7 separate regions of the Homo sapiens genome follow, and regions 1, 2, 3, 4, 5 and 6 are each linked to region 7. Evidence: fine-mapped QTL for protein levels in blood plasma. Region 7 holds a variant in brackets. A gene starts in each other region. All regions are shown on their reverse strands.

Region 1 (4,094 bases), not on the chromosome of region 7:
CTTAAAACCCTATTACTTGTCCCTGGTGGAGGTGAACACTGGGGGCCCTTTCATATAGGACTAGCCCTCGGGCTGCAATCTGAGCGGAAAAGGGAGGATGAGGGCATACTTCGAAGCTTCTTTTGCATAACTGGCGCTGGATTTTTACTGAGACTTTACGTTACAGTTTTTTTTTTTTAATTTTCAAGGTGCTTTTACGAACACATGAATAAAATATTTGTGTCATTTTGAACCTTACTTGTCTTATTTTATGCATGTATTTATTTATGGGGGGGCACAAGGACTCATCTGTGGTGGTGCAGCCACTGTAAATAAATTAGTGAAACTACTTCACGTCAATTTCTGTTCAGTACACTTTAGTGATGGATCGGAGGAAATTAATACATGTTTACAAAAAGCCCCTCCCCCAGTTGTTACATATGCCTCAGAGATACCAGTTGTGAAAAGTGCAGGTGCACTTACACACATACGCACACACACCCCACAAATGGTATCATACGAAAAAACATACCTGCAATCTGCTTTGTCCACTTAATTGTATATCTTGGATACAGAACTTGTTTCACTGGAAGGCTAAAAGGCAAAGTCTGGGGAGGCCTAGAGGACACAGGGGATGGGAGGAGGCGCTCTGAGCTGGATGTAAGGTCTCCACCCACGGCCAGAGCACAAGGTCGGATAACCAGTGGGCCTGCCGGCTTGGCTGCCTGGGCCCTCCCCTGCCGAGACAAACGGCTGGAGGGAGGAAGTGTGCGGCTGGGAAGCTCCGCTGCTCTGGCCCGGGTTTCCCATTTCCCCCTTCCCGCGCTGAGACGGCGAGGAAAGTTAGCCCGGAAATCTGCGCCCGCCTAAAACCCGGCCTGGTCCCAGCCACCGCCCCAGGAACTTCCCCCACCGCAGGGGCGGAGGTCGAGAGCAGGGATGGAGAAGTGGACCTGCGCGGGTGGACTCCGGGGCGCGGGTGGACTCCGGGGCGCGGGGGGACTCCGAGGAGCGGGTGGACTGTGGGGCGCGGGTACCGTCTCGCAGCGACCTCTGTCGGCGGCTCTGGGGATGGCCCGCATCTGTCTGCGTGTACCTGGTATACGTGCAGGTACATGTTCCTGTTCACGTGCAGACTGGGCGGGGGATGGGGGGGTCCACACCGGTGTACACCTTTGCATACCTCTTAGCAACTTGAAATTCCACCACGAGAGATATCTTTATTCCGCTATTCCTGTGCATCTGCACGGAGCCCCTAGGGCCATAGATTTGTGTGCAAATGAAATGAGGATGTAGTCTGGGTGCCCAAGGGGGGGTGCCTTGAGTGTGGTTGTCTGTATGCCTCCCTGAGGGTATTTCACTTTCTGCTCCCATCCGCCCCTATGAGCGAGTACCTATGAGCACAGGATGTGCACATATTTGAGTCTTATTAGTGGTACACGCAGTTTTATCATCTCCCCAGGTCTGTGTCTGTATGAAATGTGCATGGGTGTGTGTGTGCACGCGTGTGTTCCCACTCGGGGAATGTGGGGAGAGGTGCATGGAGCCAAGATGGGTGGTAAATAGTATGTTTCTGAAATTAAAGGACTAATGTGGAGGAAGGCGCCCCAGATGTACTAAACCCTTTGCCCTTCATCTCATCCTCTCTGACTTGGGAAGAACCAGGATTTTGTTTTTAAGCCCTTGGGCATACAGTTGTTCCATCCCGACATGAACTCAGCCTCCCGTCTGACCGCCCCTTGGCCTTCCTTCTTCCTCGATCTGTGGAACCCAGGGAATCTGCCTAGTGCTGTCTCCAAGCACCTTGGCCATGATGTAAACCCAGAGAAATTAGCATCTCCATCTCCTTCCTTATTCCCCACCCAAAAGTCATTTCCTCTTAGTTCATTACCTGGGATTTTGATGTCTATGTTCCCTCCTCGTTATTGATACACACACAGAGAGAGACAAACAAAAAAGGAACTTCTTGAAATTCCCCCAGAAGGTTTTGAGAGTTGTTTTCAATGTTGCAACAAGTCAGTTTCTAGTTTAAGTTTCCATCAGAAAGGAGTAGAGTATATAAGTTCCAGTACCAGCAACAGCAGCAGAAGAAACAACATCTGTTTCAGGGCCATTGGACTCTCCGTCCTGCCCAGAGCAAGGTAAGCACTTCCCAAGCCCCTACCTCCCTCCCCTCCCTGTGGGCCTGCAGCTGTCCAGGTGTAGAAACCGTTAGTGTGCTACCCCAGCAGCTGGCAGGAGGGAGTTGGTGGATTCCTGGAAGCATCCCTGGTGAGTCATCTGCTGGAACATTAGTGAAAACTTAGTACTCTAGGGACCGATGTACAGTGTCCATTTTAAAAGCCACCTAATAATAACTGTATAGCAAGATCTGTGTGTATGCATAGTTTGTGGAAATGTTTGTTTTATCTTATTTTGAAGTGGTGTGTATTGATGTATAAAAGTATATTCCTAAATGTTAATGCCCATCAGTTAAAGGATTGTATAGAGCTAAAGTGAGTGGTGCCTGCCTTACTATTGAAATTTTTAAAAAGCCTTTCGTGCATTCCTTAAAGTAATTGGATTCATAATTATAATAATGTTACAAATCAGACTTGCTCCCATATTTGTGATGGTCTTGGTCGTCAGTTGTGATATCAACCAAAATGACAGCTGGGATCCCCATTCTTGTGGATTAACTAACTTTGGCCCCAGTTAAAAAATGAAAAGCTATTATTGCTTCCTAAAGAGTTTTTAAATCTGTGAGAAGGGGGAAAAAAAGGTTTTTTTACTTGCCCAGGTAAAATTGTGTGCAACAACAATGTCATTTTAACAAAGGGATTACTAAACCCCAGGTGATGACCCACTTTTTCAAACAAGGAATTGCAAGATACTAGATGGAATGTGGGTAACCTCTTAGAGTTTAGTTTACTGGAATCTGAAATTGTATGATTTCCGTACATTCCTTCATGCTACTAATAAGTCATGGAATCCCTCTGTGCTGGACTCTGGGGGTAAAGTGCAAAACAAGATAGACATGATCCATGGCATAAGAGAGTTCACTCAGTGTGGCAGAGAAGACAAACAGTAAAGAAGAGACTGTATTGTTGCCATTGTAGTAAATGCTGTGGAAGGAGGGGAGCAAATAGTGGGTCCTGACTTCATCTAGGCACCATGACACTTCACGTGAATTATGTCACTAACTCCTTACCACAGTAGCATGCCCATTTTATAGATCAGGAGTGTGGGGCTTAAAGGGGCCAAGTGACTCACCCAGAGTCACACAGTTCTAGAAGTCTGCCTGGCCCTCAAACTAGGGATCTTTGCATGTGCCACCCATGCCATCTGTGACTATATCTTTTTATTCTTTAATAATAACTCCCTTTTCTAATTAAAGGTAACAAACAAAACTTAAAAAAGAGATGCCCACCCAAGCGTCATTGGCATGCTGATGTTGGCACCAGTGTTGGGAAGCCCTTAGCATACTCCAGGAAGTAGGAGTGTGTAACGTGGGGTCCCTTTGTCCTTCATGCAAGGGTTTCAAGAGTTTAGAAAACCTATGAAATTGCACACACAAAAATGTGTTTTAATCATCAAGACTCTCAGACTTACCATGCTGAGAAATGTGGGCTGAGGGATAGCGCTCCCTAGTATCAGCTGATGGGCCAGAGAGCCAAAGGAGGAGACCCACCACCATCACCTCTCCTGGACAGTGCTCTGTGGTTTCAAATGTAGGTGATACTAAAATGGGAGTTGCTTCTTAGAACCATGGCCGGGGTTCCCTTGACCCTGAAGTGCAGTTCACCTGAGATTGTCAAATGCATCTGAGGCATGCAGAGGAAGTGCTGGGCACACAGCTAGTGGGAATACCTCAGCGTAAGTGGCCAGGAGATGCCAGGAATCTCCACTATTTCCCTTCCAGTGTGCCAGCCTCTGGGTTTTACAGGCGCATGTAATTGCAGTACCTCTGTGCACATTTCCCTACTGCCTAGAATGACTTTCTTGACTATCCATGATATATAAAACACAGATACCGAATTGTTCCCTTACCTCTTCCTCTAGGTTCAAGTTAATATGTTATTGGTTGCCTTCTATAATATGTTATCTCATTGCCTTTCCCAACAAGCCTTTGAGAT
Region 2 (4,094 bases), not on the chromosome of region 7:
TTTGTATTTTTAGTAGAGATGGGGTTTCACCGTGTTAACCAGGATGGTCTCGATCTCCTTACCTCGTGATCTGCCCGCCTCAGCCTCCCAAAGTGCTAGGATTACAGGCGTGAGCTACCACACCTGGCCCAGAAATACTTCTTTATCAGAAATATTACTGGCGGGTGTAGCAGGGCACGCCTATAATCCCAGCACTTTGGGAGGTCGAGGCAGGCAGATCCCTTAAGCTTAGGAGTTCAAGACCAACCTGGGCAATATGGTGAAAGCCGTCTCTACAGAAAATTAGCCAGGCACAGTGGTGTGTACCTGTGGTCTCAGCTCCTAGGGAGGCTGAGGTGGGAGGATCACTTGAACCCAGGAGGCTGAGATTGCAGTTAGCTGAGATTGTGCCCCTGCACTCCAGCCTAGGCGACACGGTGAGACTCTGTTTCAAAAAACAAAAAAGAAATATGACTTATTTACAAATATTTCTTTCTTTTTTATTTTTAGAGACAGGGTCTCACTATTACGTAAGTATTATAAATTATATATATATGTTTGTTTGTTTGTTTGTTTTTCTGAGACAGAGTCTTGCTCTGTCACCCAGGCTGGAGTGCAGCGGCACAATCTCCACTCACTGCAACCTCCGCCTCTTGGGTTCAAGTGATTCTCCTGCCTCAGCCTCCTGAGTAACTGGGACTACAGGTGCCCGCCACAATGCCCAGCTAATTTTTTATATTTTTGGTGGAGATGGGGTTTCACTGTGTTAGCCAGGATGGTCTCGATTTCCTGACCTCGTCATCCACCTACCTCAGCCTCCCAAAGTGCTGCTAGGATTACAGACGTGAGCCAGTAAGTCCGACATCTTTTTTTTTTTTTTTTTTTTTTGTGGAAACAGGGTCTCACTGTGTCTCCCAGGCTGGAGTGCAGGGGCACAATCTCGACTCACTGCAGCTTTGACCTCCCAGGCTCAAGCGATCCTCTCACCTCAGCCTTCCAAGGAGCTGGGACTACAGGCACCAGGCCCATGCTACTGGTCCCTGCTGTTTACAAATACACTAGACTTGGGTTTTAGCTGCTCTCTCAACACCAGGTGGGAAATGGATTGTTCGGAAGGTAGAGGAATAGAGGAGGGACCTGCTTAGGAAGGTGGGGGTGCTCTAGATGAGAGAGGAGGTGCTGTGACCTCAAGGTCTGGGGAAAGTGGGTGAGTGCAGGGCCCCATCAAGGCTCTCAACAAGGCCTCTCTCTCTGGAGCTCAGATGTGAAGCCCAGAAGGCAGGTCAGAGGCCTGAGGTCAGAGGCAGGTCAAAGGTGGGGGTCCCACCTGGTCCCCTTGGCGCCTTCCCTTGGAATGCAGTGACCAGCTGCCTGGAAGGGTGGGCAAGGGGACAACAGGATGGGGTAAAGGCCAGTTACAAGTAGAATCCTGGAAGGCCGGGCGCAGTGGCTCACGCCTGTAATCCCAACACTTTGGGAGGCCAAGGCGGGCAGCTCACTTGAGGTCAGAAGTTTGAGACCAGCTTGGCCAACATGGTGAAACCCCGTCTCTACCAAAAAGTACAAAAATTAGCCGGGCGTGGTGGCACATGCCTGTAATCCCAGCTACTCGGGAGGCTGAGGCAGGAAAATCGTTTGAACCCGGGAGGCAGAGGCTGCAGTGAGCCGAGATCCCGCCACTGCACTCCAACCTGGGTGACAGAGTGAGACTCTGTCTCAAAACAAACAAACAAAAACCAAGTAGAATCCTGGATAGACAGTGGCTCAGGGACTCAGCTGTCCCCAAATCACCTACCTTAGCTCTTTGTGCAGGGGATGGGGGATCCCCAAGATCTTCAAAGATAGGGAGGTATCCTCAAGATCTTCAAAGGTGGCCAGGCGTGGTGGCTCACGCCTGTAATCGCAACACTTTGGGAGGTCAAGATGAGAGGAGGCCATCTTAAGGCCAGGAGTTCAAGACCAGTCGGGGCAACATAGCAAGACTCTGCTTCTGTTTCTGTTTTTGTTTTTGTTTTTTAATGTTTCCTCGAAATCCCACCTTAACATCTACACAATGGTGCCTACAGTTTTCCCCATTAACTTCCTCTCTGGGGACAGAATATTCCCCTACCCACCTAAGTTCAGCCAGAAGGAGATGCCTCATCCCCCCCACCCAGGCTTCCCAGTGCTGAGAACAAAAGAAACCAGTTTAGTTAGCATTTCCTGTGAATTCAAATGGGGGCCAGCAGTGCAACTGGGACCAGCCCATTCCCTGGGGGAGACTCAGCAGTGCTGGCCACTTTGCAGAGCCCCGTCTGGGTCCCCCACCCTGGCCCCCAAGGGCCACAGCATCCCCTTCCACCCACAGGCCTGGGCAAGGTGCAGTCCCCAGACTTCTGCAATCTTAACCGCTGTGCTTCCGTCGCAGTGGGAGGCCCCGCCTTTTCCCCTGCCTGCCCTTCGGGCACCTCAGGAAGGCACCTTCCTCTGTCAGAATGGCCACCATGGTACCATCCGTGTTGTGGCCCAGGGCCTGCTGGACTCTGCTGGTCTGCTGTCTGCTGACCCCAGGTGAGACCAGTCAAGCCGGGGAGGGCTGGAGAGGGCTGCGTTTTGGGGATCAGTAGAGGGTAGAGGAATAGAACGCAACGCTGTTCACATCCTGCCACACTGCGACCTGGCCGCTGACTCTGTATCCTCGGGAGAAAGTTCTGGTTCCTTAGTTCAGCCTTCAGGTGGTCAGGCCCCAGCATAGGCTTGTACGCCATCCCTCTCCCCTAACACACACACACACACCCCTCATGCTTCCTGCTCCATCTGAACTCCTGAAATTTGCCCTTTGCGTATGTGCTTCCCTCTGCCAGGATCACCTGTCCCTTTCACTTGCTAACTCCTACTTAGCCTTCAGTTTCGGGCTGCAATGGTCCCCGCTTCCAGGAAGCCTTCCCTGACTCACCTCCTCCTATGCTGGATCAGAGCCTCTTCTGGCCTCCTTCTGAGTTCTCCCCGGTCTCTGATGGATTCTACCTTTCCCACTGGACCATGAAGGCAGGAACCCTTCTGTCTCGGCACAAGGAGAGAGGTGTTAAATGGTGGGGCCTGTTGATGCGTGGGTTGGGGGACAAGGAAACAAACACCAGGACTTCTTCATGTTCCTGAAGGTGTCCAGGGGCAGGAGTTCCTTTTGCGGGTGGAGCCCCAGAACCCTGTGCTCTCTGCTGGAGGGTCCCTGTTTGTGAACTGCAGTACTGATTGTCCCAGCTCTGAGAAAATCGCCTTGGAGACGTCCCTATCAAAGGAGCTGGTGGCCAGTGGCATGGGCTGGGCAGCCTTCAATCTCAGCAACGTGACTGGCAACAGTCGGATCCTCTGCTCAGTGTACTGCAATGGCTCTCAGATAACAGGCTCCTCTAACATCACCGTGTACAGTGAGTCGACGTGTCCGGAGGTGGGACTGGTCTTGGGTAGTGGTGTGGGCAAGTGGCCAATGGCTCAGGAGAGTGGGGACCCTCAGTTTGCAAAGAATGGACCACAGTTCTGACCCAGAGCTCAGACCTGGACATTTGTGTGTGAGATACAAAGATAGACAGAGACAGAGACACAGAGACAGAGACAGAGATATAGAGACGCATCTCAATCTCATGCCAAGGCAGCAGTTGTGAAATCAATTAACTTGGGCCCCAACAAGCATTTTTTTTTTTTTTTTGAGACAGAGTTTCGCTCTTTTTGCCTAGGCTGGAGTGCAGTGGCACGATGTCGGCTCACTGCAACCTTCGCCTCCTGGGTTCAAGTGATTCTCCTGCCTCAGCCTCCCGAGTGGCTGAGATTACACATGCACGCCACCACACCCAGCAAATTTTGTATTTTTAGTTGAGATGGCATTTCACCATGTTGGCCAGTCTGGTCTTGAACTCCTGACCTCAGGCGATCCGCCCACCTCAGCCTCCCAAAGTGCTGGGATTACAGGCATGGGCCACTGCGCCCGGCCCCAACAAGCTTTTTTTTTTTTTTGAGATGGCGTCTCTTACTCTGTAGCCCAGGCTGGAGTGCAGTGGTGCAATCTCGGCTCACTGCGACCTCTGCCTCCCAGGTCCAGCTAATGCCCAGCTAAGTTTTGTATTTTTAGTAGAGACGGG
Region 3 (4,077 bases), not on the chromosome of region 7:
CATGGGCATCACAGTCACAAAACACAAGAAATCAGAAGTCTGGAGACATTCCCCCTGTCCAATGCCCAAATCTAGGTCCCTGTTGCTTTCTTCCTGACCTGCTGGCCCACAACCACAGGTGGCCTCCAGAATTAATCCAAATGAGAGTCTCTGCCCTTCCAAAACATCTTAAGTGGATCATTCATCTCAGGCCACCTTCAGTGACAGGAAGGGGATTGAGGTCTGCGGAGAGCAAAACCTAATTCGGCCCTGTACCTGGATGCGGATGGGGTGGGGGAGGCGCGACGGGAGGCTGGGTACTCCAAGTTCAGCTGCGGGAGACGCCCCTCGCCCCCACCTGGCAGCCACAGAGGGTCGCCAGCCTAGGGGAGATGGTTCCTGCTGTCTTCAAATGAGCCCACCAAACCCCAGCCCGTGGGTATCGCAGCACCTACCTTGACCCAGGAGACCGTGTAGGGAACCTGCGGATCCCAGGGGGCGGTGCAGGGCAAGTCCACATCTTCGGAGCAAGCCACCTTCACCTCCGGCGTCGCGGGAGCCAGGCTGTAGGCTACAAGAAAGAGAGAGCGCGTCGTGAGCAAGCGACCGACGGGAGGGGGTGTCGTGGAGGGGCGGGGGGCGACAGGCGAGACAGGCGCTCGCGAGCCCTACCGCAGCTCAGGAGCAGAAGCTGGAGGCCGCGCGACATGGCTGGAGCGCTGCGCCGCTGCCACGAGCTGCAGAGCTGTGGCGCGCGGGCGCCGGCTGCCCTTTTATGCCCGCGCGTTCGGGAACTTCCCTGCGCGCCAGCCCGGGGGATTCCCCGGCGGGCAGCGGAAGCGGGTGGCGCGCCCTCCTAGTCCCGCTTAGGCCGGGGCGCCCCCGTCCCCGCCCCCTTCGCCCCCGTCCCCGCCCCCGTCCCCGCCCCCGTCGCACCCGCCGCCCTCGCCGCGTGCGCGTCCCCGCCCCCGCGCGCCCGGGCCGGGCGCCCCGAGTTCGCGTCGCTGCTGCGGCTGGCAGCGGCGACAGCAATCCCCGCGTGACGCCCAGCGCTGGGGGCTTTGCAGACCGCGCTCGCGCGCGTGACGCTGCCGTTGACCCGCAAAAGGAAGCCGGGAACCGGGCCATCCGAGCGGGATCTGCCCATTTTACGGAGGCCAAACCAGATTCCGAGAGGGTGGGCAACTTCCTCAGAAGCCCAGCCTGTCCTTGGGAACGCACTGGTGAACCCAAGTCCTCACTCTTCTCCAGAATCTGTGATAATCAAAGGCGCGTTAGATTTCCATGGAAACATACAAGTCTGTAGTACTTGGCTCCCTGCCTTCCCCGGGAGGTTATCAGTCAGTACCGTCCTGTTTAAATTATATCACCAAAGGAGAGTGTCTCCTATTAAAATAATAATTACACGCATACACAACATTTTTGGAAAAGAAAATTCTAGAAGACAATGAAATCACCTGTAATTCATCCAGGAAGTAACTTCAGTTAACATTTTTTTATATTATAAAATGTTTATAACATAACATAACGTAAAATATTTATAACATTTGTCAGTGCACAGATTGGTATTTTTAATGGTTTATTCTTCCTGCTATCTTGTAACCTACTTTCTTTTAGCTTAATAATTTGCAAGCGGTTCCACATCATTAAAAACTTCCAACAGCATCATTTTGGTCCATTGTTCAGTTGCACCATAAATTAGAATCGATTAGTGTTAGACATACAGGTTGTTTCTTTTTGTATTACTAATATTAGAAACAATACTGTGATTGCTATGGGAAACTTCAGTGTAGATAAATCTTTGCTCTAAAATTGCTTATTTTCTTAGAATAAATACCTCAAGGAAATTGTGCTAGGTGAAGGGGAGTTTCCAATTTTGTCAAATATTGCCAAAAAATTACCTGCAAGGAGGTGTCTTCAATCTATATTCCCATCTGCAAAGAGAGTGCCTGTTTGCCAACACAAACTGTTATCCAACCTTTCTATCTTTGTCCATCCAAGAGGTTAAAAAGAGTGGCATCACTATACCACCAGTTCTAATCTGCTCTTGGAAGTAGTTATATCAATTGACAGTCCCGCCAGCTTGTGTGAGTACCTTTTCTCCAGCAGCCTCACCAAATTAATTTTTTAATTGTGAAAATGTTAAGCATACAAAATAAGTATAGAAAATATGGAATTGAACACATCTGTATACAATTTATTCTTGAGAAATAAAACAGTACTAACATTTTCGAGACCCTCTTTTTTTTTTTTTTTTTTTTTTTTTGAGACGGAGTCTCGATCTGTCTCCCAGGCTGGAGTGCAGTGGCCGTGATCTGAGCTTACTGCAAGCTCCGCCTCCCGGGTTCACGCCATTCTCCTGCCTCAGCCTCCCGAGTAGCTGGGACTACAGGAGCCCGCCACCACGCCCGACTAATTTTTTTGTGTGTGTATTTTTAGACGGGGTTTCACCGTGTTAGCCAGGATGGTCTTTTGAGACCCACTATGTGTCCTCTGCCAGATCTCATACCTAGCCATTTATGCTTCTTTTCAGTTTTTCCTGATTATAAACAATGTTGCAGGGGAGCTGAAAGTCTTCCAACACTCTAGCTCAGTAATTACACTGCATTGTTAAATATTGCCGTCTTATTATCCAAAATGCACATGCCCATTTACACTCCCCTCAGCAGGTCTTAGCATGATCAGATTTTTTTCTTTAAAGATAGGGTCTCACTATGTTGCTCAGGCTGGTCTCAAATTCCTGGGCTCAAGAGATCCTCCTACCTTGGCCTCCCAAGGTACTGGGATTACAGGTGTGAGCCACGTGCCCAGCCAGATCTTTTTAAATTTCTGCCTATCTAATGAGTGTGAAATATTAGATCCTTTTTGCTTAATTTATGTTACATTGATAACATATGCTTCAAGAACATTGGATATTTCTGAGCATTGTCATTCATATCCTTTGGCCTTTTCCATGAGCGCTGTTTATAAAATCTGGGCCAAATCCTTTCTTGGTTATATCCATGCCAAATCTCTTCTCCAAGTTTAAGATTTGTATTTTCCATTTTGTTTATGATATCTTTAATTTACCAAAGAGTTTTTAAAAAATATTTTCATGTGGTCAAATTTACTGATCTTTTGGTTTATGATTTGTGCTTCTGGTATTGTGTTTAAGAAATCTTTTCCTGACCTGAGATCATAAAAACATTCTCCTTCATTTCCTTCCAAAACTTTTAAAGTCATGCTTTTTCATATGTTGGTCTTTAATCCATTTAAATATGGTTTGATGTCGTGATCTAACTTATTTTTTCCATATGGATAACCATTTTTTCCAATGCTGCTTGCTAAAAGTCCTTCTTTCCCTACTGATTTAAAATGACATCTGTGCTTTATACAAATTTCTACATATGAGTGGGCCTGTTTCTAGACTCTATTCTGCCTCTCTTTGTGCTAATATCACACTTTCTTATTACTATAATTTAATTAAGTCTTGCTGTGGTGGAAGTGAGTCCTCACATGTTGAACTTCGTCTTCAAAATCGTTCTGGTGGCTGGGTGCAGTGGCTCACGCCTGTAATCCCAGCACTTTGGAAGGCCCAGGTGGACGGATCACTTGAGATTAGGAGTTCAAGACTGGCCTGGGCAACATGGTGAACCTGGTCTTTACTAAAAATGCAAAAAAATAACAAATACAGAAAATAGCCGGGCATGGTGGCTTGCACCTGTGGTCCCAGCTACTCAGGAGGCTGAGGCAGGAGGATCGCTTAAGCCCAGGAGGTCCACGCTGCAGTGAGCCGAGATTGTGCCACTGCACTCCAGACTGGGTGACAGAGCAAGACTGTGTATCCAAAAAAAAAAAAAATGTTCTGGCATTCTTGGTTCTTTGTTCTACCTTATACATATTATATCAATTTGTGAACCTCAAAAAACTTGATTTGAATTTTAGTAGGAATATATTCAATTTATAAATCTCCTAAAATCAACATCTTTAGAAGTCAGTTCTACAAATTCATCCCATATTGTGTATCTTTCCATTTATTTAGGTCTTCAAGAATTTTTAAAATTATATATATATAGGTTTTTCACATCTTTTGATAGATTTCTTCCTGGATACCTTCAC
Region 4 (4,000 bases), not on the chromosome of region 7:
AAATAAGAAGTTGATATTATGGAAGTATAGCATAGAATAGCATCTATCAGAGACTGAGGAGGGAATGAGGAGGGAAGAGAGGGAAAGATTGGTCAACAGGTACAAGGTGCCAATTCGATAGGAGGAATAAGGTTTGGTGTTTTATTGCACAGTAGGGTAACTATGGTTACTAGTAAGGTATTATATATTACAAAATAGCTAGGAAAGAGGCTTTTGAATGTTCTCACCACATAGAAATGAAAACTGCACGAGACAATGGATATGCCAACCACCCTGATTTGATCATCACTGTACAACATATATATGTATTATATTGCAATGTCAAACTGTGCCCCATAAATATGTACAATTACAATGTGTCAATTAAAACATTAAAAAAACCAACAGATTAAAAGAAAAAGAGAGAGATGAAACAGCAGAGTGTATGCAAAAACAGCTTTACACCCTGGATTTAAAGGGCTCTACATTCTCATTCAGGAGATTTTTTTGCATTGGTCCTGAAACTTTACACTAAACAAGCTTATCCCCACACAGGCTTTCCTAAGCCAATAAATAAAGCTATGGAATACCTATTCGTTTTCAGCACTTTCGCTGTTAGCCTGGTTACCAACATTGCTCCCTTTTCCCTCTGGTTTTGCGTATCACTGAATAGTTTCTTTTCTCAGTCATACTCATTGAGCTGGATACCTGGACTTAGACATCATTGCCTGACAGCATCTTTCCCCTAATAGGTTACTTTCCACACATTCTAGTTATTCTTAATCCTAGACACTCACGGATTTAAGAAATGTTGAAAATTAAGATAGCTTATTCTCCTCCAATCCCTAATCTAGGCTTCACTTGCCTAGAACTGGTATCCCTAATGTGCTAAAGGTAGCAATGGGAGAGATTATAGGTGCCCTGATTTTGAGGGAAAAGAGGGGCAATTTTACAAATGCCAGAGTTAGTACTAATGGTGAACCCTTCTCAAGTGCCCTGAAGCTAATTTGCATATACTTCTTTTCTGTATTTCATTTTCAAATATCCCCCAGATTGTAATTTGCCGTGATTTTATTTTTCAGTGATTTCATGCTCATTTACTGGTACACTGAAAGTTTGAATATCAAAGCGTATATCTGTATGAATAGGTTGACCCTGTACATAAGTCATCATATGCAGCAAGGGTCAGACACTACACATAACCGGGGTGACAGCCCCATCAGTCCCTGATTTAATGACATGTTTGCATAATATGACTATACTAGAGAAAGTTTGCATAGTGGGACTATATTGCTGAGCAAGAAGAATGTGCCAATTAGAAACAATCCAGGAGACATCCCTATCAAAGGTGAAAAGTATTGTAGATGTATCAAAGATGAATTTCAGCAGGACCATAACCTGATGAGACTCATCAAAGTAGGAAACTGCCTTTAGAAAACTTCCTTTGAAATACCTGAATTCTTGAAAAAGTCCCTCAAATATTGATGTGTACTATCTGCAGCTTGTGGAACTGAATCAAACTATATTTAAAAAGGAGCATCTTTAATTTTCTCAGACTTCATAGAAAAGGAAATGGAGACTGGTCACTAGAGGGTTCTTCTTCCTTCTACTTCTGCTGAAGGGTAACTTCCGATATCAACTTCCTCAAACCTCTGATGAGCTGCTGCTGCTCGACTCTGAGGTGCATTCTTTTTTTGATGAGAGGCATCTCTAGGTACCATCCCTGACCTGGTCCTCATGCTGCCGAGGCTGTTGCTGTTGATCTGTGGTGAGTTGGGCAACTCAGAGCAGGGCATGGGATGCAATCATGCTTGGGCTCTGCTTCCTGAAGGGCTGTAAGGACTTCTTAGGACTAAGGTTCTGTCAGGTAATGCTCAGGGGTGCTCAGATCTCCACTTCCACGGAGGGCTCAGAGTCAGGCAAAAAGTTGTAGATATTTCAAAAAGCCAGAGTTTTCAAGAAAACTATCATTTCAGTTTTTATCTCATAGGAAGTGTTCACTGTCTGTCTTCCTTTCCATCAATAATTGTCTTTGTTCTCAGTGTTTTCAACAGCTGCCAAAAGAAAAATCTGTATAATAAATAGGCCTCTGAATTCCTTGCCCTTCTTACTACCAACGTTATTTCCTTTTATCCCTCTCTGACTCCCCATTCCCACAGTCAAACCTTAGAACTTATCATCACTCCTTTGTTTTCAGCATACATCCCCCACCCCCACTAAGTTGTGTTTCTAGCTCACTTTCTCCTGCACTCTATTTCCAACATGACTTCAATTACCCCAGGGCTACTTTTCCATTATCAGTAACTACACTTCATGTGCTCACTTCTCATGGTGCTCAGCTCAGATTCTGCAGCTCACCACCACAACACTCCCTCGAGCACACCTTCATCTCTCTTCCCCCATAGCACTCTCCTGGTTTACACGCCCTTCTGCATGCTTCACTCCTGGACATAAACAGCTGAATGGGATTTTTTTTTAAATGCACAACCCTGATGACTTATCCCCTTTTAAGTGTAGGACCCCCAAATCTCAGGTAGCCAACAGCAATGCCAGGCAATTATCCTACATGTTCACAGTCCATGTTGCTCCATTATCACTATTGCATACCTTATCCTGTCACCTCATACTTCTCTGTTCACTCTCATTGTGTAATCTTGCTTCATATTTCATTGAGAAAATAAAAGCAGTCAGAAGAAAACTCTCTCATCTTTCTGTTGCTGTTGACCTACTCACCTCTGCATTCACATACACTGCCTTCTCTTCCCCTACCACGAATATATTGCCCCTCATCTTGTTGATGACAAGACTCTCCACTTGTGCATTAGGCCCATGACCCTCTTACTTTCTCAAAAAGTTTGCTCCATCATCAATATGTTTCTTCATTCTAAATTATTCCCATAAGTATACAAACATGCTACAGTATCTTTTATTAAAAACAGCTTTATTGAAATATTATTCACATATAATACAATTCACCATTTAAGTTATGCAATCCAATGGTTTTTTATGACAATCACTGAGTGGTGCAACTATCACCACAATCAATTTCAGAATGTTTTCATCACCCAAGAAAGAACGCCATACCCACTAGCAGGCATCCCCAATTTTTTTTCCAACGCCTCACCTATCCTCACCCCTCTATTTTCTGGCCACATGCAATCATTATCTACTTTCTGTCTCTCTATATTTGTCTATTCTGGACACACACCCCATATCTAACTGTAATTATATATCCCTTGAGCAACATTTCCCTCATTCCTCCTTCCCCACTATTACCCAAGCTTCTTGTAACCATGATTCTGCACCGTCCTTCTATGAGATCAACGTTTTCAGATTCCACATGAGTGAGATAATGCAGTACTTGTCATCCTGTGCCTACCTCATTTCATTTAACATAATATCCTTCAGGCTCACCCATGTTGTTGTAAATGATAGGATTTCATTATTTTTTATGTCTGAATAGTATTCCATCATGTATGTATATTGCATTTTCTTTATCCATTAATTTTTTGATGAACATCTACATTGATGCTGTCTTGGCTATCGTGAATAGTGCTGCAATAAATGTGGGAGTGCAGATATCTCTTTAACACACTGCTTTAATTTCCTCTGGATACATGTCCAGTAGTGGGATGGCTGAACCATATGGTAGTTCCATTTTTTATATTTTAAGAGCCTCCATACTGTCTTCCATAATGGCTGTTCTAATTTACAGTCCCACCTACAGCATGTGAGGATTCTCTTTTCTCGACATCTTTGACAATACTAGTTATCTTTGGTCTTTTTGATTATAGTCATTTTCATAGGTATGGGGTAATATTTCATTGTGGTTTTGATTTGCATTTTTCTGTTGATTAGTGATATTGGGCATTTTTTCATATACCTGTTGGCCATTTGCATTTCTTCTTTTGAGAATTAGACCATTGTTAATAGGGTTGTTTTCTCACTATTGAGTTGTTTGAGTTTCTTATATATTCTGGATATTAACTTTTTCTCAGATGTATTGACTGCAAGTACTTTT
Region 5 (4,092 bases), not on the chromosome of region 7:
GAAAAAGTGGCCAAGGAAGATGTGGAAAAATGATAGGTGAGCCACATAATATAGGATAGAGGGTGAAGGGGGAGCCTTTGTGAGGGAGGTAGGAGGATAGCATTCCATGACGCATGAAATTGGTCATAATGGTCATTGAACTGTGGACATAGATCTTTGAAGAAATTGAATGGGGGAATAGATTTTATTTTAAGGGAGTCAAGCACAGAGTGGGACAGCTGTGTATCTCTGGATTGTAGGATACAGAGGGAGACCACAGGTGGAAGATAACAAAGCACAAGAAAAAAAATTCCAAAAATAGCAAGAGCCTAGGAAATTTGAGGGAGTCAACATCAGGAATATCCCTTAAAAGGTTCATCTATGCAGAATTTTATGGTGGGATGGGATAATGGGAAATGGCCCAAAAATTAGTAGAGAATATTTCCCTGAAATAGAACATTCTAAAGAACTCCCATAATTTAGATGATTGAACTTACATTTCGAGTAATCTTGACTTGCATGGTCTTGAATCTCCCGAGTTAATCCAAAGAGGTAGAAACGAAATAACAACTCTAGGTCTGACAACTCTTCATTGCTGAAGTTGCCCTTGGACCAGTTATGCAGGAAAATTATTGTGCCTGATTCACTGTCCCAGCCATGAGTCTGCAACTCGTCCAGCCATCCTGAGCCCTGACCTCGTGCCCAGGATTGGTTGACAAATGAGAAGATCTGGATGACATGGAAGGAGACGTGTTCCTGGGATGCTTTTGGTGGAAGAAGGGCAAGTAGTGTAAGGAAAAAAAAAAAAAGAGAGGCAAGGAAAATGGAGAGAAAATGGAAGGTGAACCAGTTACCACAGAGAAACATTAATGACTACTTTAGCTATACCATTTTCCTTACACAGAGCCCCATGCTCTGCCACCATCCTCTAAAAGAGTAAACTGGACCTGGAGAGAGGTATGCTCAAATGGCAACCATTCTGGCTTCTTCATTGATCCATCTTGGGAAAGCCCATCATGCTCAACCCAGATACATGTAACCTTGCAGCTGACAGAGATGTTCATACTATCTGCATTGTCACCACCGGGGAGGAGAAGAACTAGCAGCGGAAACTACAGAAACAGCATGTCATTTGCAGTTGTTTCCTTCTCTCAGAAAAGCCATTTGCTGATCTCTGTTCTTAGCAAACTTATCCCTCTACATCTATATTCTGACTTCCTTCTACCAACAGACAATCTTCCCCATCAGCCACTGACAGCAACTAAGACAATCTGCTTCCCTTAACCTTAGGCCTCCTACTCAATCTCTCATTTCCCCATCTGCTCTGAACTAAAGTTACTCTCTTCCCTTAGGATTTTAGCTGCTCTCCCACTAAGCTCCATCTTATCTACTTCCCTTCCTCAACTGCCTTAGACAAAGTGGTGCGTGGCATTGAAAGGTTGCTTCATCCCTCTGGACCTTGCGTGTCATTTGTAACATAAAAAGGAGAAACCACATCATTTTCCTGGGCCCTGATTGTTTTAACGGAAAATGGAGAGGAAATGGAAATTGAACCAGTTACCACAGAGAAACATTAATGACTACTTTAGCTATAACATTTTCCTTACACAGAGCCCATGCTCTGCCACCATCCTCCAAAAGAGTAAACTGGACCTGGAGACAGGTATGCTCAGATGGCAAGCATTCTGGCATCTCTATTGATCCATCTCGGGAAAGCCCAGCACACTCTACCCAGATACATGTAACCTTGCAGCTGACAGCGATGTTCTTACCGTCTGCATTGTCACCACCTGGGAGAAGAAGAGCTAGCAGCAGAAACTGCAGAAACAGCATGTCATTTGCAGATGTTTCTTTCTCTCAGAAAAGCTGTTTGCTGATCTCTGTTCTTAGCAAACTTATCCCTCTGTACCTATATTCTGACTTCCTTCTACCAACAATCTTCCCCATCAGCCGCTGACAGCAACTAAGAAGATCTGCTTCCCTCAACCTTGGTCCTCCTACTCAATCTCTCATTTCCCCACCTGCTCTGAACTAAAGTTATTCTCTTCTCTCAGGATTCCAGCTGCTCTGCCACTAAGCTCCATTATATCTACTTCCCTTCCTCAACTGCCTTAGACAAAGTGGTGTATGGCATTGAAAGAAAGGTCATTTTGTCCCTCTGGATTTTGCATGTCATTTGTAAGATAAAAAGGAGAAACCATGTCATTTTTTCAGTTCCTGCTTGTTTTAATAGATCACAGTTCTTCCAGTTTCTCCACTTAACTTTGCCTCCACTCTCCATAGTGTCCCCTCTTCTCATCACTCCATTCTTTCTTTCCCCCTTTTGAATGTCCTCAAAGTTTTCTCTTTCCAATTTCACCTCTTTTCACCCATCTTTCTTATTTCCTCATTCTCACTGATTCTTTTATAAATTGGAGACGTTGCTTTTTACATCTTCCAAGATTTCCCTGCACAATTATATAAACTACAGTCCACTCTACATTATCCTTAGAGATTAAATTGCAGCCATTCAGAATGCATAGGACCATAACAAATATAAAGAAGCCCTTCTACTGCATTTAATCTGTATAGTCATTCACTAAAAAATTACATAGTACATGGTTGATACCAGTGTCTTACTAGGCATATAAACACACAGAGGTTAACAATGTAATCTCTTCTATCAAAGAGTTTTAAACTGCAGATGTTTAAACAAAAAATTAAAATGCATTGTGATTTTAATTTCAATGTATAGAATCCCAGATACAAATCTACTTAGAACTATATTCTCTAGAGCAGCATTTTGACTGACTAACCCCCTGGGAAGTTCATAATTTGAAGTCCTGGAAGAACAGCATGCATCTCAACTAAATACTGAAAATTCTGTACAGTGTGGAATGGTATACGATTGTGATAGTCAGAACATGCAGCTTTTCAAGAGGACTCATACATGGGGAGACCACAAAAATCCAAATTTAAGTTGTTTTGTGATCTGACCAAAACACATTGTATAAAAAGGGCAGCATTTGTCAATGTTTGATTTAAGTAGTTTATATGAAGTATTCAGTGACTTATCAGTGACCCTGGCTGGTTAATATGTGTAAATACATGAACACAGTTTTTTTGAGATCCAGGAAATACATTTATTATTATAGTGTTTCTTAAATCATATTAATTATTCACTGAATGCATTGGAGCAGTCACTTAAAATCTGGGCATGAATTTGTGCTAGGCACAATGACTCATGCCTGTAATCCCAGCACTTTGGGAGACCAAGGTGGGAAGATCACTTGAGCCCAGGAGTTTGAGACCAGCCTGGGCAACAAAGTTAGACCTCATCTCGATAAAAAAATTAAAAAGTTGGCCAAATGTGGTGGCACATGCCTGTAGTCCCAGCTAAATGGGAGGCAGAGGCAGGAAGATCTTTTGAGCCCTGAAAGTCAGGGCTGTAGTGAGCCATGTTCATGTCACTGTACTCCAGCCTGGGTAACAGAGCAAGACCGTGCCTTAAAAAGGAAAATCCCATTTGTAACATTGTTTCTGTTTTAAATTTATATTTATTCTATGTATTTACTGTGTACAACATGATACTTTGATATATACACTATTTCTTAGGTTTGTCAACGTTAATAGTGAGGCCAGAAGTCATTCTCAATGAGCTCTTCCTATCATGGCCACAGATATGTGGCAATTTCTATGAACTATAATATCTTTAAGAGCAATACCCAGTTCAAATCCTACCCAAATCATTCATAAGCACTAGGTGTTATCTTTGCTCATCTTGTGCTGTTAATGGCAAATACTTGGTTTGTGGTTTTAGAAAACAATAGTAGATACCACATTATGTGTTTATTCACATTTTTTTCCATGTTCCTACAGGAAAGATGCAACTGTCCTATTTCCTAATAGTTGGGTTAAGGTCATGGACTGAGTTCTGGGCAATGGAATGTGTGGTGTTGGAAGCATTAGCCAGCTCCAGTCCTGACCACTGAAAATATCACATCTGATCATCTTACCCTGTGGTACCAACTTGGCAGTCAAATTTCTAAATGGCAAGACTATGAGATGGAGAAGAGCAGCCTGATCTACATGCAGTTTAACTGCATGAGAAATAAACTTCATTGTGTTAAGCCT
Region 6 (4,000 bases), not on the chromosome of region 7:
CTTCACCCATCCATTCATGCTTGGCACCCACCTCCCTCAACCCATTTCCAACACTTTTCCTTCAACACCTGAGAGATGACTCGAGTTATTACAAAGCGCCACTCTATTCTAGGGCTAGAAGCCAGCTCCCTGTGAGGGTCTAGAGATGAGCTTGGACAAGGGTGTTGAACCCAACACTCACCCAGAGAAAGCCTACATGTTTTTGATCAGGGAAACCCAGACCAGGTGGTGAAGTGGCTGAGTCAGACTTGGGACCCAGTGTTTTAAAAACAGTGGAGTGAGAAAGCCTGACTTTTTTTGTTTTTTTAAGACGGAGTCTCACTCTGTGGCCCAGACTGGAGTGCAGTGGCACGATTTTGGCTCACTGCAACCTCCACCTCCGAGTTCAAGCAATTTTCCCTGCCTTAGACTCCCGAGTAGATGGGATTACAGGCACCCACCACCACACTCGGCTAATTTGTGTATTTGTTAGTAGAGACGGGGTTTCACCATGTTGGTCAGGCTGGTCTTGAACTCCTGACCTCAGGAGATCTGTCCGCCTTGGCCTCCCAAAGTGCTGGGATTACAGGCGTGAGCCATTGCACCCGGCCAAGCCTGACTTTAGAACTGGCTAGGATCTGCCTTCTGTTTGTAGCTGAGGGACCCTAGGCAGGAAAGCAGGAAATCTCCCACGCTGGGCCTCAGTTTCTCCTCTACGAAGTGGGCATAATGATAGCTCATCAGGCTGTTTCGAGATGAAAAGAGACATGCCCTATTTAGCACACGGTGAGACCCCTATTCTTATTCCTCTTTGCAGGAGACGGCTGCTGCTGTTCCAGTCTCTCCTTAGGCAGACTTGAGTTTCTACCCACTCTTCCCAAGCAGCCGCCCCTCCGCACCCGAGCGAGCCAAAGACCTGGCGGGCTGAGTACTCACTGCGCGCTGGACACATGCTGAGCCGGCACTGCAGGGACACAGGGCGAGCCGCTGGATGCAGACCTGTGGCCGCGGCAGGTGAGGGCGGTGGCTGGGAGGCTGACCCAGGGGGCCACATTTTTATAATTGTCCCGAGGCGCGGCAGGACTTTCCCGGGACTCTGGTCTCTTGCTTTCTGTCTCCTTCTGTGTCTCTCTCTACATCAGCTTCTCGGTGACACGTGCGGTGCGGCCGGCCCGCGGGGCTTGCGGCGCTTTCGGATTAACTCCCGGGGTGCCCGGCCGCAGCCGTTCCGGGACGGCCCCGCCGCCTCCAGCTCGGCCCAAAATGAAAGCGAAATGTTCGCAGTTACTGCGCGGGGTCCACAGGCGGGCGGGACACCCCGCCCACCACCCTGGGTCCCCGGCCTTAGCCGGACGCCCCGTGTCTAAGCTACCCCGCCCCGCAGCTGTGCAGCGCCCCCTGCCGACGTAGAGAGAGGAGTGCCTCCCACTTTGCATGTCCTGCGTAGGGATGGGCCCTAACCACGACCTCCAGCCTAGTACTGGAAGGGGTAGGCAAATCATTCACTCATCATCGTTCCTTTAGATGGCTCACTAGATGCCAGGCCGACGTTGCACCAGGTGCAGGACACCCAGGGAGAACAGGACCCTTGGGGCATTGCCACACTAAATCAGACTCAAGGCGTTTTGTTCACAGGTCTTTTCTGAAACCTGAAAAGGGATGAGAGCTGGCTGACTCTGCAATTATTACTCTTGTAGAGAATCCAGTTTAACGATAGGATGAATACACAGAGTCCTGGGAGGAAAGACCTAGAGAAAGAGCCCACGCTCAGCCGGAGCAACGGGGTCCAGGAGTCAGCAAAGGCTCCCGGGAGCAGGCAGGGGCCCCAACCTGAGTGTTAAAAACAAGCAGGCATTAGACCGCTTCCAGCGGGAGGGCACGCAGGGTCTAGCCAGGGGAAACAGGGATCAGAAGCGCAGTCATGAAGGGTTGAGGGAGGTGGGGGTCTAGGTGTCCTTGCAGGGTGTGAGGCTGGAGGGCTGGATGGGGCCATGCCATGAGGGCAGGGGATGCCATACTAAGGAGTGTACTTTCTGTGCTGAGAGTAGTGGGGAGTCTTCCTGGGTTTTAGGCGGGAGATGTGGCAGAATTTGCATGATGGGGGGATCCCTTCAGCCACAGCATGAAGGATGGATCCAGGGGTCAGGAGTAGAGCAGAGGGAAGAGTTGACAAGGTGTGGCCAAGTCCTTATTCAGTATGGAGAACACAGGGTGGGCAGGAGGGACTCTCAGAGGGCTTGTGGGCCAAGGCTTGGTAGCTCCTCAGGTGAGCGGGAGAGGAAGGCCCTGAGAATGGGGAATGGAGATTGTTCTAGCTTTACAGGGATTACTGTATAAGAGGACTGAGTTTGGAGGAGATGGTGAGAAGTTCCATTTTGGATGTGCTGGGTTTGAGGTTCCTGTGGGACTTTTTAGTTCAGTTGTTTTTCCCACAGGCATTAGTCACCCTAGGCGTGGGTAGTGGGGAGGATGTGTTTGATCTCTGACTTGGAGCTTCCAAAGGGCCTGACTACACCCAGGCCCTAGGACCTAATAACTGGAGCTGCCTTCTGGGTGGCTCATCTGCTCGAAGCTGATGAAGCACGGCTGTAGGGAGTTTTAGGTGTGTGTAAAATAAGAGAAATGGTTGATCTCTAAGGCCCCTTCTAATGCTGCTGTCTGAGAATTCCCCCACGGGATACAGAGTAATCCATTGTCAGAAACAATTGCGTTTAGCAGTTTGTCTAGAGCAAATGACAGGTGCAGAGCTGTGTTGTGGCCACAAGGGTTTAGTGTGGAGTTAAATGTACTTAAAGTCAGGATGAAGACAAGTGTATCACAACTGAGCTGTTTCTCCCCTGGAAGGGCCATCTCCTATACAAAAGTAATTTCTGTTGCTTAGATGAGCACAGGGCCACTGTTAAAAATGGATTATTGGCTACCAGACACAGTTTCTAATTTACATTTTTGTGAAATAGTTTCCTGAAGTGCTCCATGTCCTCTAGCTAAGATGAAATGAAAACCTTCTTCTAGGAATACATGATTTTTCTATAAGTGACAGTCTTAGCTCACAATCACTACTTCACAGTGTGTAGCATTGTCGTGGAGGTCTCGGCCAATGCTATAAGGAAAGAAAAAGAAATGAGAGCTTTAAACATTGGAAAAGAAAAGGTAAAACTGTCACTTTTTACAGTTGATATACAAAAAGAAAAAAAATTAATAGACTATTAGAACTAAGAAGAGAATTTAACAACATCATGCAATACACATATCAACTTAAAAAAAATCAGCCGATTTTCTTTGTATCTGCAACAATCCATCAGAAAATGTAATAAAAACAAGATGACATGCATAGAAGCAGCCAAACTATAAAGTAACTGACTGTAGATACAGAGGCAGTATAATGGCTAAGAGTATGGACTAAACTATGTTAATCCAGGTTCTGCTACTTACTTGCTGTGTGTTCTTAGGTGAGTTATTTATCTCTCTGGGCTCAGTTTCCTCATCTGTTAAATGATGATAATAAAAGTACCTACAGTATAGAGTTATTATGATTATTACATGAGCTTGGATAACTACAGAATAGTGTTTGGAGAAAAATTTTAAAGTTCAGTCAAGAATATAGTGTGATTTAATTAAATAATTCTATACCCTTGGGTGGAAGGTTTCTCTATATAGAAAGCTTAAGCCTCTTTTCGTTAATTCACATGCTCAATGTAATTCCAATACAAGCTACAAATAAATTTTCTCAGAAACTTAATAATAAGCCTACTCTAAAATACAGATGTAATAAAATCTATGACTAAGTTAAAAAAATTTTTTTTGAGACATGGTTTTACTGTATCACCCAGGCTGGAGTGTAGTGGTGGCACAGTCACAGCTCACTGCAGCCTTGACCTCCTGGGCTAAAGTGATCCTCCCACTTCAGCCTCCTGAGTAGCTTGGACCACAGGCAACACCATCATGTCCAGCTAATTTTTATTTTTGTATTTTGTAGAGACGGAGTCTAGTTTTGTTGCCTAGGCTGGTCTCAAACTCCTGG
Region 7 (4,092 bases):
TTGGTAGAGATGGGGCTTCGCCATGTTGCCCAGGCTCCATCCAGCTTTTTATGGGGCATCCCTGTGGGCTTGCTCCTGGACCGCCTTGCGTTTTCGCTCCACACACTCAACACAGTCCATCCCCACTACACCCGTGATGTCCTCCCATACACCAAGGGCCCTCATGCTTGCGTCTCCTTTCGGAGCTTCAGGTTCATATGTTAAATGTTTGGATGTCTCAAAGGTCCCTTTAACACAGTGTATGCAAGGTGAATTCCCCTAACCCTGGCCCTGCACCAGCAGTCCTCTCTGTGACTGGTAATGAATGCCAGTGAATAAATAACCACATTCTATATAGTTGGGCACACTAGAAACCCGTGACTTTTCCTTGACACCTTCCTCTTTCTAACACCCTGTGAGCTAATCCTATCAGGTTTCCGATTAGTGTCTCTTGATTCCATCCTCGTCCCTCCATCTCTATGACCACCACTCTAGTTCAAGGCTCTCTCCTGGACAAAAGCTTCCAAAGCAGGTTCCTGTATCCACTCTTGCCTCCCTTTGGCTTCTCCATACTGAGGTCCAAGTGACAGTGGCGAAAGGCTAAGCAGATCAAATGGCTTTCCTACTTCACATTTCCTCCACCACCCGCATGGCTGGGCCACCGCTGCCTCCCCACCTCTTGCTCTCGGCACCCCAGAGCGCTGGCCTTCTTTCAGTTCCCCCAGCACTGTCCTCCCACCCACTGTGGGGCCTTTGCACAAGTGGATCCTTCTGCTTCCCCTTCCCCTTTCATGTAAGTATCTCCCACTGCCCCCTCAGATCTCAGCTTAAACACCACTTCCTCTGTCTCACACCACAGACAATATTGAGGCCCTTGCAATGTGCGACATTAGCTCTCTGCAGGCTTTCCCCCGTAGAATCCATCACCTTTGTCATGACATTTTTTAACATCCAATTGTTGTCCCATCTGTCCAGTAGCCCCTGTGCCTCATGAGGGCAGGGTCTGTGTCTGTGGTGCTGTGCTCTCTCCTTTCTCGACCTTTGCCCACTCTTTCACAACCCTCAGCACTGTTCTCCTCCCCTTCCACCATGAGTCACCTGGCCAGCTCCCATTTTTCTTCAGGACTCAGTTTAGACATTGAATGCTCCTTTCTCCACCCCTCCAAGGCTAAGGTAGCTATCCCTTTTGACCCTACAGTACCCCTGCACTCCTTTGCCACGTTGCATTTTTTCTTCTTTTTTTGAGACGGAGTCTCACTCTGTCGCCCAGGCTGGAGTGCAGTGGCACCATCTCAGCTCACTGTAAGCTCCGCCTCCTGGGTTCACGCCATTCTCCTGCCTCAGCCTCCCTAGCAGCTGGGACTACAGGCACCCACCACCACGCCCGGCTAAATTTTTTTGTATTTTTAGTAGAGACAGAGTTTCACCGTGTTAGCCAGGATGGTCTTGATCTCCTGACCTCGTGATCCGCCTGTCTCAGCCTCCCAAAGTGCTGGGATTACAGGCATGAGCCACCGTGCCCAGCCCAACGTTGCATTTTTTCTTTTTCTTTCTTTTTTCTTTTTTTGAGATAGGGTCTCACTCTGTCACCCAGGCTGGAGTGCAGTGAAGTCATCATAGCTCACGGCAAGCTTCAAGTCCTGGGCTCAAGTGATGGTCTGCAGCCTTTCCAGTAACTGGAACTACATGCAGGCACCACCAAGCCCAGCTAATTTTTATTTTATTTTATTTTATTTATTTATGTATTTTTACTTTATTTTATTTTTAAGTAGAGACAAGCTCTTGCTATTTTGCCCGGGCCTTTCTTGAACTTCTGGGTACCAGCAATTCTCCCGCTTGTCTCAGCCTCCCAAGATGTTGGGATTAGAGGCGCGGGGACCCACGTCTTGCCTGCCGTATTGCATTTATGGCACTGTATTGTCATGGCTTATTTACTTCTCTGCCTTCTCCAGGAGACTCTAAGATCCAGGAAGACAAGGGTTGTGTCTTGTTTTTCCTTCATTCCCCAGTGTCTAGGACATTGGCTCTTACAGAGTAGGCACTCAATAAATACTTGTTGAATGACTGAATGAAAGAGGTAATGGTACATGAAAATGCTTAGAAGAAGCTAAGCATGCTAAAAAATGTAAGATATTATTTTAGCCATGAGGAATAGGACATGAACAAGTAAAGCCCCGAATCCCTGTCCAGCGTGAAGCTGAAGACATGATGTATTAGGGGGTCCCAGTGCCCACAGGAAATCCCACCCCCAAGCTAAAATCTTGGAAACAAGGATACCCCTGAGAGCTTGCCCAAACCAAAATAGAGGATGTCAGCACCGGAGAAGCCACTATAAAGGTTAGGATGCCTTCCTGGACAAAATAATGGAACCTGGCAATCGAACCAAATCTTCACTGAATGTAAAGAAGAGTTACTATATCTGGAAGAAAAAGTCTGTTCACAGAGGGGTGGTGCCTGGAGCCTGGAGAGGGAAGTCCAGAGACCCTGCCCTTGCCCCTGTGGCTGCCCGGGCTGCCCTGACCAACTGCACATGAGCCGCAATGACGGGAGCCCTTGGATTCCATAGTGACTTTCCTCACACTGTGCTTCTAAGTCAGCTT[A/G]TAAGTACAGTTTGCTGAGCTATCTGGAATTTTCCCTAGAGAGAGAATGCATTGGCCAACCAATATGTTCTAGCCTGCTTGGCAGTTTTATTTCTCAATGTCAATTAATGGGTCTCTTGAGCACCTGATAGTGGGAATTAGTCCTCTTTGACCTTCTCCCATTGGACTTGCTGGCAAATCTAATGTTCTAGACCTGAGGGCCACAGGCTAGAGTCAACCATGCTCACGACACTGTTATCTCTCTCTGACTACAACAGATCCAAGAGTTCAAACAAACAAACAAAAAGGACGTTTCTCCCTTCTGTTAACTTGTACTGAGGAGGAAAAGCATGTGTTATTATTTTGTTTGTTTGTTTTGAGGGCCAACTGTAAGGATTTTTATTTTGGTAGGTAGAGGAAAGTCCTGTTGAAAGGTGCATTACCAGATTCAACATTTATACTATAGTCTTTGTTTTGTTTTGTTTTGTTTTGTTTTTGAGACAGAGTCTCGCTCTGTCACCCAGGCTGGAGTGGTGCAGGGGCTCAATCTCGGCTCACTGCAACCTCTGCCTCCCCAGTTCAAGGGATTCTTTTGCCTCATCCTCCTGAGTAGCTGGAATTACAGGTACGCACCGGCACGCCCGGCTAATTTTTTGTATGTTTAGTAGAGACAGGGTTTCACCATGTTGGCCAGGTTGGTCTTCAACTCCTGACCTTAAGTGATCCACCCGCCTTGGCCTCCCAAAGTGTTGGGATTACAGGTGTGAGCCACTGCGCCCAGCCCTATACTACAGTCTGAATTCTGCCTTAGGCTGGGCATGGTGGCTCATGCCTGTATTCCCAGCACTTTGGGAGGCGGAGTTGGGAGGATTGCTTGAATCTAGGAGTTCAAGACCAGCCTGGGCAACATGGTGAGACCCCATCTCTACAAAAAATATAAAAATTAGCTGGGCATGATGGCCTGTGCTTGTAGTACCAGTAACTTGGAGGGCTGAGGTAGGAGGATCACTTGAGCCCAGGAGGCAGAGGCTACAGTAAGCTGAGATCATGTCACTACACTCCAGCCTGGGTGACAGAGTGAGATACTGTGTCAAAAAAAAAGAAAGAAAGAAAAGGAAAAAAAAAAAAGAAAAAGGAGAAATTCTGTCTTAAAACACAGGATATTGTTTGTTTGTTTATTTATTTATTTATTTTAAGATGGAGTTTCACTCTTGTTGCCCAGGCTGGAGTGCAATGGTGCAGTCTCAGCTAATTGCAACCTCTGCCTCCCACATTCAAGCGATTCTCCTGCCTCATCCTCCCAAGTAGCTGGGATTACAGGTGCCTGCCACCACGCCTGGCTAATTTTTGTATTTTTAGTAGAGACGAGGTTTCACCATATTGGCCAGGCCAGTCTTGAACTTCTGACCTCAAGTGATCCACCCACCTCGGCCTCCCAAAGTGCTGGGATTACAGGCATGACCCACCATGCCTGGCTTCTCTCATAATTTTGAATTTAAATAAATAATGCAGATTGACTCTGAGCTGAGAAAAA

Which allele goes with the higher level. Alleles are on the strand shown, and positions count from the first base shown. The strength of an association depends on the size of the effect and on how common the allele is.
With allele A in place of G in region 7, the plasma level of the protein whose gene starts at base 2,065 in region 1 is lower (moderate association).
In carriers of allele G in region 7, the plasma level of the protein whose gene starts at base 2,444 in region 2 tends to be higher than with A alone (weak association).
For the plasma level of the protein whose gene starts at base 728 in region 3, G is the high allele of the variant in region 7 and A is the other (moderate association).
As copies of G replace A in region 7, the plasma level of the protein whose gene starts at base 1,634 in region 4 goes up (weak association).
With allele G in place of A in region 7, the plasma level of the protein whose gene starts at base 1,954 in region 5 is higher (moderate association).
With allele A in place of G in region 7, the plasma level of the protein whose gene starts at base 1,255 in region 6 is lower (moderate association).

Evidence for each region. PIP is the posterior inclusion probability: the model's chance that the variant is causal. Protein levels are from antibody-based Olink assays in UK Biobank. Linkage for the fine-mapping came from a reference panel and not from the study's own genotypes, which makes the PIPs less certain.
Region 1: it holds the start of IL12B, and the variant in region 7 is fine-mapped to the plasma level of the IL12B protein (UK Biobank, PIP above 0.99).
Region 2: ICAM3 starts here. The variant in region 7 is fine-mapped to the plasma level of the ICAM3 protein (UK Biobank, PIP above 0.99).
Region 3: it holds the start of CD83, and the variant in region 7 is fine-mapped to the plasma level of the CD83 protein (UK Biobank, PIP above 0.99).
Region 4: it holds the start of FCRL1, and the variant in region 7 is fine-mapped to the plasma level of the FCRL1 protein (UK Biobank, PIP above 0.99).
Region 5: it holds the start of CD1C, and the variant in region 7 is fine-mapped to the plasma level of the CD1C protein (UK Biobank, PIP above 0.99).
Region 6: IL12A starts here. The variant in region 7 is fine-mapped to the plasma level of the IL12A protein (UK Biobank, PIP above 0.99).

The regions. Positions count from the first base shown.
Region 1 is chr5:159,328,458-159,332,551 of GRCh38, reverse strand. It overlaps IL12B (interleukin 12B), which reads left to right and starts at 2,065. Exons shown (of 8, transcript NM_002187.3): 1 at 2,065-2,120. It overlaps IL12B-AS1 (IL12B antisense RNA 1), which reads right to left and starts at 1,034. Exons shown (of 5, transcript NR_037889.1): 1 at 512-1,034.
Region 2 is chr19:10,337,974-10,342,067 of GRCh38, reverse strand. ICAM3 (intercellular adhesion molecule 3) reads left to right here and starts at 2,444. Exons shown (of 7, transcript NM_002162.5): 1 at 2,444-2,529; 2 at 3,120-3,386. The coding sequence starts at 2,454. RefSeq lists enhancers at 846-1,593, 1,594-2,341, 2,435-2,484, 2,705-2,804, 3,090-3,838.
Region 3 is chr6:14,114,423-14,118,499 of GRCh38, reverse strand. It overlaps CD83 (CD83 molecule), which reads right to left and starts at 728. Exons shown (of 5, transcript NM_004233.4): 1 at 652-728; 2 at 435-550. The coding sequence starts at 688. RefSeq lists cis regulatory regions at 1-225, 1-296, 462-1,117, 301-1,117, 457-1,365 and silencers at 861-980, 1,108-1,402.
Region 4 is chr1:157,817,754-157,821,753 of GRCh38, reverse strand. FCRL1 (Fc receptor like 1) reads left to right here and starts at 1,634. Exons shown (of 11, transcript NM_052938.5): 1 at 1,634-1,747. The coding sequence starts at 1,717.
Region 5 is chr1:158,287,785-158,291,876 of GRCh38, reverse strand. CD1C (CD1c molecule) reads right to left here and starts at 1,954. Exons shown (of 6, transcript NM_001765.3): 1 at 1,752-1,954; 2 at 477-743. The coding sequence starts at 1,812. It also overlaps a transcript of CD1B not described here.
Region 6 is chr3:159,986,090-159,990,089 of GRCh38, reverse strand. IL12A (interleukin 12A) reads right to left here and starts at 1,255. Exons shown (of 7, transcript NM_001397992.1): 1 at 916-1,255. The coding sequence starts at 931. It overlaps IL12A-AS1 (IL12A antisense RNA 1), which reads left to right. Exons shown (of 10, transcript NR_108088.1): 9 at 797-993. RefSeq lists enhancers at 995-1,044, 544-1,044, 1,045-1,545, 2,397-3,596 and silencers at 1,165-1,214, 1,285-1,484.
Region 7 is chr13:28,028,358-28,032,449 of GRCh38, reverse strand. The region is part of intron 15 of FLT3 (fms related receptor tyrosine kinase 3); the gene reads left to right. Among named protein-coding and RNA genes, the nearest start is that of URAD, 42 kb to the right of the region's middle. The variant A/G (reference allele first, on the strand shown) is at 2,580.